Regions from separate parts of the Homo sapiens genome. Here region 1 is linked to region 2. A link means that fine-mapping ties the variant in region 2 to the plasma level of a protein whose gene starts in the linked region. Region 2 holds a variant in brackets. A gene starts in the other region. All regions are shown on their forward strands.

Region 1 (2,880 bases), not on the chromosome of region 2:
CAGGCAACAGAGTTGGGGGGACACAAGCAGGGAGTGGAGCCCGAAAAAAACGAACAAGCGGGGGCGGGGGAGTGGGTGCGGAGAGAGGACAGTCCATTCGGAAGAAAGCAAAATGCACAGAAAAGACAATGGAGAGATGAGCGCAGGAGAGGCTGGGAAGGCAGGGACTCCGAAAGGAGAAGGACACGGAAAGAAACCCACACACGTCATCAGGTCTGTCCAGCAGCGAGAGCCTCCCTCCCGGGAAACCCACCGACGCTCGCGCCCACCCTGATCAGCCCCGGGGAGCAGCTCCCCCAACAAAGGGTGGATGTGTAGACCCTCCACTTCGACGTGTCCGGAGCCCGGCGCAGGGAGGCTGACCCCCAAAGGGCCACACACCCACGCACGTGAACCCGCGTGCACGCGGCAGCCCGCGCATCCTCGGTGTGAGTGTGCGCGTGGAGATCTGTGAGCTTGGGAAGCGAGAGTGCGTGTGCGTGCACGCGCGAGGGTCACCGGCGCTTCGCTGGGGACGAGGCGCCGGGGCTCGCGGTGGACGCCGCTTTCCGGAGCTAGGGGAGCCCATGGACAGTCCCTGGGGCTCTGGAGTGGTTTCAAGGCTTCTCCATTCCAGGGAAGCGCCAGGTCCTGCTGTTTCTGGTGCCATCCGGAGACAAACAGAGATGGTTAATTAAAGCCACATGGCCCCCATCTGTTCCCAGAATGAAGCCTCCGCTCAGCTCAGGCACTCTCCTGGGCAATGGATTTTTGGAGAGCCCTCCTCGGTCAGCACCGCCAACCCCAGGGAACCTGCCCTCTGCGGTGGGGAAACCCAGGGTGAACCGGCCGAGGGTGCAAAACCCTGAGCGGGGGCCGCGGGAGGCCGCAGGGGCCGGGGCTTGGGCGCAGAGCCCGGGGGATGAGGGTCCGCGGCGCTCCGCGTGCGCTGTCTCCAGCCACCACCGAAGCAAGGGCGGTGGCGTTTAATCCCAGGGGCGTCATTTCCATCCAGTCCCTCTCCCAAGCCCCCAGGATCCCACGAAGGTGAGCAAGCAGCTTTTGGGTTTTCCTTCCCCATGCCCAAGTCCGTCCGCCTCCCCGCACCGTTTCCACGGAATTACCTAAGAAACTGAAAGCTAGCAACTGGAGAAGCCCCATGCCGGCTCCCTGCAGCCACGGGGACGCGGCAGAGGAGTGGAGAAGACGCCCGCCGAGCCGCCTGCCCTTTCTTCCCGTCTTCCTTTCTGGAGAGGTGGAAAGGAGGGGAAAAAAGGCAAATGTTCAAAGAGAGAAGAGGCGCCCTTCCATTTCCTGTCGCTCCCACGGAAGCGGGGGGTGGGCTGGAAAGTGGGGAAAATCGTGCAGCCACTTTGTTCTCCTCACCCGGCGACGCGAGCTCTCGCCCTGCTCCGGGAGCCCCCGAGCCCAAAGAAGGGAATTAGAAAGTTTAGCCTTGGGAGGAACAGAGGGAGGCGCCTCTGCTCATGCGCATACGGAGAGCCGGGGCTGAAGGGGCGGGCGGCCGCAACTCTGCGAGGACCGGGTGAGGTCCCGGTCCCACCCCCCGGGGCGCCTCTTTTGTTTGAAAGCCGAATCTGCGATCGCTGCGGGGCTGGGGCGCTTCCAGGTCCCAGGGCGGGTCCGCCCCGGGGTGCGCGTCCCAGAACGGCGCGCGGCGGGGCCGTCCAGCGAGGGGGGCGGATGCGTGGGGGCGTCTCCGAGGTGGGTTTTCAGGTTGCCCAGCCAGGGGGCCGGCGGGACCTACCGCGGACTCGCGCATTTACGTTCGCAAGAAGTGAATCACCAAACGTGCCCACGGCTAAAACTCTCGTGCGGTGCGCTCGGGGAAGGCGGGTTAACCCTTTAGAAACAGGGTCGACCTGTCGTGTTTGTTCTTTAGAAAGTGACACTTCCTCTCCGCCCCTAGTATCCAAGAGCTTGGGATGGGCGCGACATCTACAGTGTCTTCCTAGGAAGGAGGAGAAGCTCTGTGCGCCCTGCAATTCTTTGCGCACACATTTATTCAGGACCTATCTGTAATCCCTGTTACCCAGGTGGTCACGGCATTGAATTGAACGTCCAGTTCTGTTTTTAAAAAATCTACTTCCAACATGGTGCAACTCCATCTCTACTAAAAATACAAAAATTAGCTGGGCGTGGTGGCGGGCGCCTGTAATCCCAGCTACTCGGGAGGCCGAGGCACGAAAATCGCTTGAACCTGGGAGAAGGAGGTTGCCGTGAACCGGGATCGTGCCATTGCACTCCAGCCTGGGCAACAAGAGCAAAACTACGTCTCAAAAAAAAAAAAAAATCTTCCTACCTATATCCAGATGATGGCTTTAGCTCAGGTAATTCCTCAAATGACACTATTATTGTTACTGACTCCGTTTCCCATCTCGCCGTGGAAGAGTTGACACAGCCAGGAAGTGGAAATCTCTCATGAGAGGCACTTCCCCACAACGCTCATCTCGACGATTCTCCATGGTGTGCAAATGCTGAGGTGGGGAGAGGGCCTCTAATGAAGGGTCTCTAACAACACAGTGTAACCTGCCTGGTGAAATTAGGGGTACATAGAAACTCACCACCTTCTAGGGGTTGGAGAGGGAAAAGAGGTTGGTGACGGGACCCCACCACCCATTCTGCTACCCTTAGCAATGGACAGAGTCAAAGCTTGGAGTCCTGCTCTGGGCAAATGTGGCTGGAATTCAGGGAGTATAGTTAGTTGTCAGTCCAGTCAGGAGACTTGGCTTGTTTTCCAGTCATTTCCGGGAGAAGAGTTTAAGCGGCTAGCTGGTCAGTTTTTAACTTAGCTGTAACGAAATAAGGCCCAGAGAAGTTTAATCATTAGACCATAGAGTCAGCTGCTTTACGAGTTCGTAAGCCTGCACGAGTCTGAGG
Region 2 (2,900 bases):
TGCACACTCACAATCACCCGCACACACACCCTCACCCCCACCCGCCCACTCACCCACACCCCCGTGCCCCCAAGCCCCTCCTCCCGCTGAGCACGGCAGGACATCCCTGCAGGTTAACAGCAGGGACCATGTGCTGGAGCCCAGCTGGGTTCGACTCCAGGCTTTGCCCCCCGGCCCGGTGTGTGGGCACGGCGGGAACCTGGCTGCCCCGTGCGTGAGATGGGCAGAGCCCAGGGACCCCCGCCACCATCTTGGGGACAGGTCGGGGAGCAGACGTGGCCTCTGAGATCCCTGGTTGGGGTTCAGCCTCCGGCCAGCACTAAGCATTACTTAATTAGTGTCGTCCCTGCCTGCCTGCCTGCCGGGGTCAGGCCATTCCTGGGAAGTTTATGTCCTCCCCTGTGCTTCACCCATGACAGGCTGGTCATTATCACCTTTCAGATAATCCTCAGCTGCCGCCAGCAATCAACACCTCGTGCCCCCCTGCCCCCTGCCCAGTCTCCACTCCCACCCAGCATGCCGCATCCCAGCCACCTCCAGCTTTTTGGGACACATTCTTGGCCTAACAGCTCAGGCTATTTCAGATTCACAGATAAAGGGGCAGGAAGTCTTGATATATTCCACCCCCACCCCCCACCCCCCGCGTTGTTGACTCCCCTCTTCTCCCCAATGATCCCTACTCCAGGAAGCTCACCCGGATTGTCCAGGTCAGAGGCCCCAACTCTATGGCTTGAACCTGGATTCGAAGGCTCCTTGGGGTCACTCCACAGGAGCACACCTGCTGTCAGCCCCGCTCCAGGCAACACCTCGGTGGCCACAGCAGGCGCCCTGCGGGGTATGCAGGGGCCAGGGAGTGCGTGACACACGATCCAGCTCCGAGTTGTAGCCTTGCTCTGGGCCTGAGGCCAAGGAGGGCGCGGAGAGGAAGAGACAGTGTTTGCAAACAGGGCAGCTGCCAAGCAGGGGCGGGGGAGAGAGGAGGAAGGTGCGAAGGAGAGAAGGCCCAGGCGGCGCCCGCCCGCGGCGCCTGCGTGACCTTCCCACCCTGGCTACACATTGACAGGCATATGCGCGCACACACACGGATCCGATGTCCACACATAGCAAGTCACATTCACTCCCCATACACACAAGTACGTCAGCACACACAAGCTCAGATGCTCATGCAGACACAGC[A/G]GGCACAAAGCTGTATTATCATCCACGTGCAGTGAGACACACAACGCCATCCTCCCTCCTTTCCATGCATATGCATTCACACACGTGCACACACATGCTCACACATGCACACTCACACTGGCGTACACATACTCATGCTCACACATGACATTCACACTTGCACACACGTGCACACACACTTATGCTTACACATGTACACTCACTGGCGTACACACTCATGCTCACCCACGAATTTACATGTGCACACATGTGCACACTCATACATGCACACACATTCACACTTGCACACATGCACACACACATACTCGTGGACACATGAATACTCACTGGCACACATACTCATGCTCACACATGACACACACTTGCACACATGTGCACACTTGTACTCACTTATGCATATGCATACTCAATCGCACACACACGCACACACTCACACACACTCATGCACAGGACAGTCACACTTGCACATATGTGCACACTTGTACTCACACGCACGCACACACATTCATACTTGCACACATGTGCACACACACGCAAGTCATGGACACACACGCACAGTCACTGGCGTACACACTCATGCTCACCCACGAATTTACATGTGCACACATGTGCACACTCGTTCACACTTGCACACACATGCACACACATACTCGTGGACACAGATGAACACTGGCACATGCTCACGTATGACATTCACACTTGCACACATGTGCACACTTGTACTCACATATGCATATGTATACACTCAATCGCACACACACTCATGCACACAGGACATTCACACTTGCACATATGTGCACACTTGCACACACACATTCACACACATTCACACACATGTGCACACTCACGCACACACACATACTCATGGACACACATGCACACTCACACTCATGGACACACATGCACACTGGCACACATACGCATACTCATGGACACATGCACACTCACACTCATGGACACACATGCACACTGGCACACATACGCATACTCATGGACACATGCACACTCACACTCATGGACACACGCACACTGGCACACATACTCATGCTCACACATTACTGACTTGCACACATTTGCACACACATGCACACACTCACAATTGCACACACGCGCACACACTCGCACAATGTGCACACTCGCATGCACGCACACTCACACTCAGACACGTGCACACTCACTGGCACACACTCATGCTCACGACATTCACACTTGCACAGATGTGCACTCTCACACTCATATGCACACGCATACACTCACACACATGCACACTCACACACACTCATGCACACATGCATATAGAGTTCCTTGATGGAAGCTTTGAGAACCATATCTTTCATTCCATTGTTAGCACACAAACTTTGGTTTGGTAAAGGAGAGGGATTCTTAGAAGCAGGTGGCTCACTCCCTCCTGCCCACAGCTCTGCCATCAGGACCCCCTGCAGGACAGCAGGGAGGCTCAGGCAGCACCATGAGCTCAGGCAGCTCATCCTCGCCCCTCCGTCTCTCTCTCTCCCTTCCTCTCTGTCTCTTTTCTGTCTGTGTCTCTCTTCCTGTGTTTGTCTCTCTCCATCTCTGTTTCTCTCTCTGTCTCTGTCTGTTTCTCTTTCTATCTCTGTATGTGTCTGTGTCTGTTTCTCTCTCTCTCTTCCTCCACCTGTTTCTTTTTGTGTGTCTGTTTTTCTATCTGCATCTCTCCTTCTTTTTCTCTCCCCCGTCTCTGTTTC

Direction of the effects. Positions count from the first base shown, and alleles are read on the strand shown. Strength reflects both the effect of a copy and how common the allele is.
With allele G in place of A in region 2, the plasma level of the protein whose gene starts at base 1,416 in region 1 is lower (weak association).

The links. A credible set is the group of variants that fine-mapping cannot tell apart. PIP is the posterior inclusion probability: the model's chance that the variant is causal. The UK Biobank Pharma Proteomics Project read protein levels with antibody pairs (Olink). The fine-mapping took linkage between variants from a reference panel, not from the people measured, so its PIPs are less certain.
Region 1: LAMB1 starts here. The variant in region 2 is the best candidate, but not a certain one, in a credible set for the plasma level of the LAMB1 protein (UK Biobank, PIP 0.66).

The regions. Positions count from the first base shown.
Region 1 is chr7:108,001,746-108,004,625 of GRCh38, forward strand. It overlaps LAMB1 (laminin subunit beta 1), which reads right to left and starts at 1,416. Exons shown (of 34, transcript NM_002291.3): 1 at 1,366-1,416; 2 at 1,104-1,226. The coding sequence starts at 1,140.
Region 2 is chr19:55,525,557-55,528,456 of GRCh38, forward strand. No RefSeq gene overlaps it. Among named protein-coding and RNA genes, the nearest start is that of SBK2, 10 kb to the right of the region's middle. RefSeq lists an enhancer at 601-1,475. The variant A/G (reference allele first, on the strand shown) is at 1,177.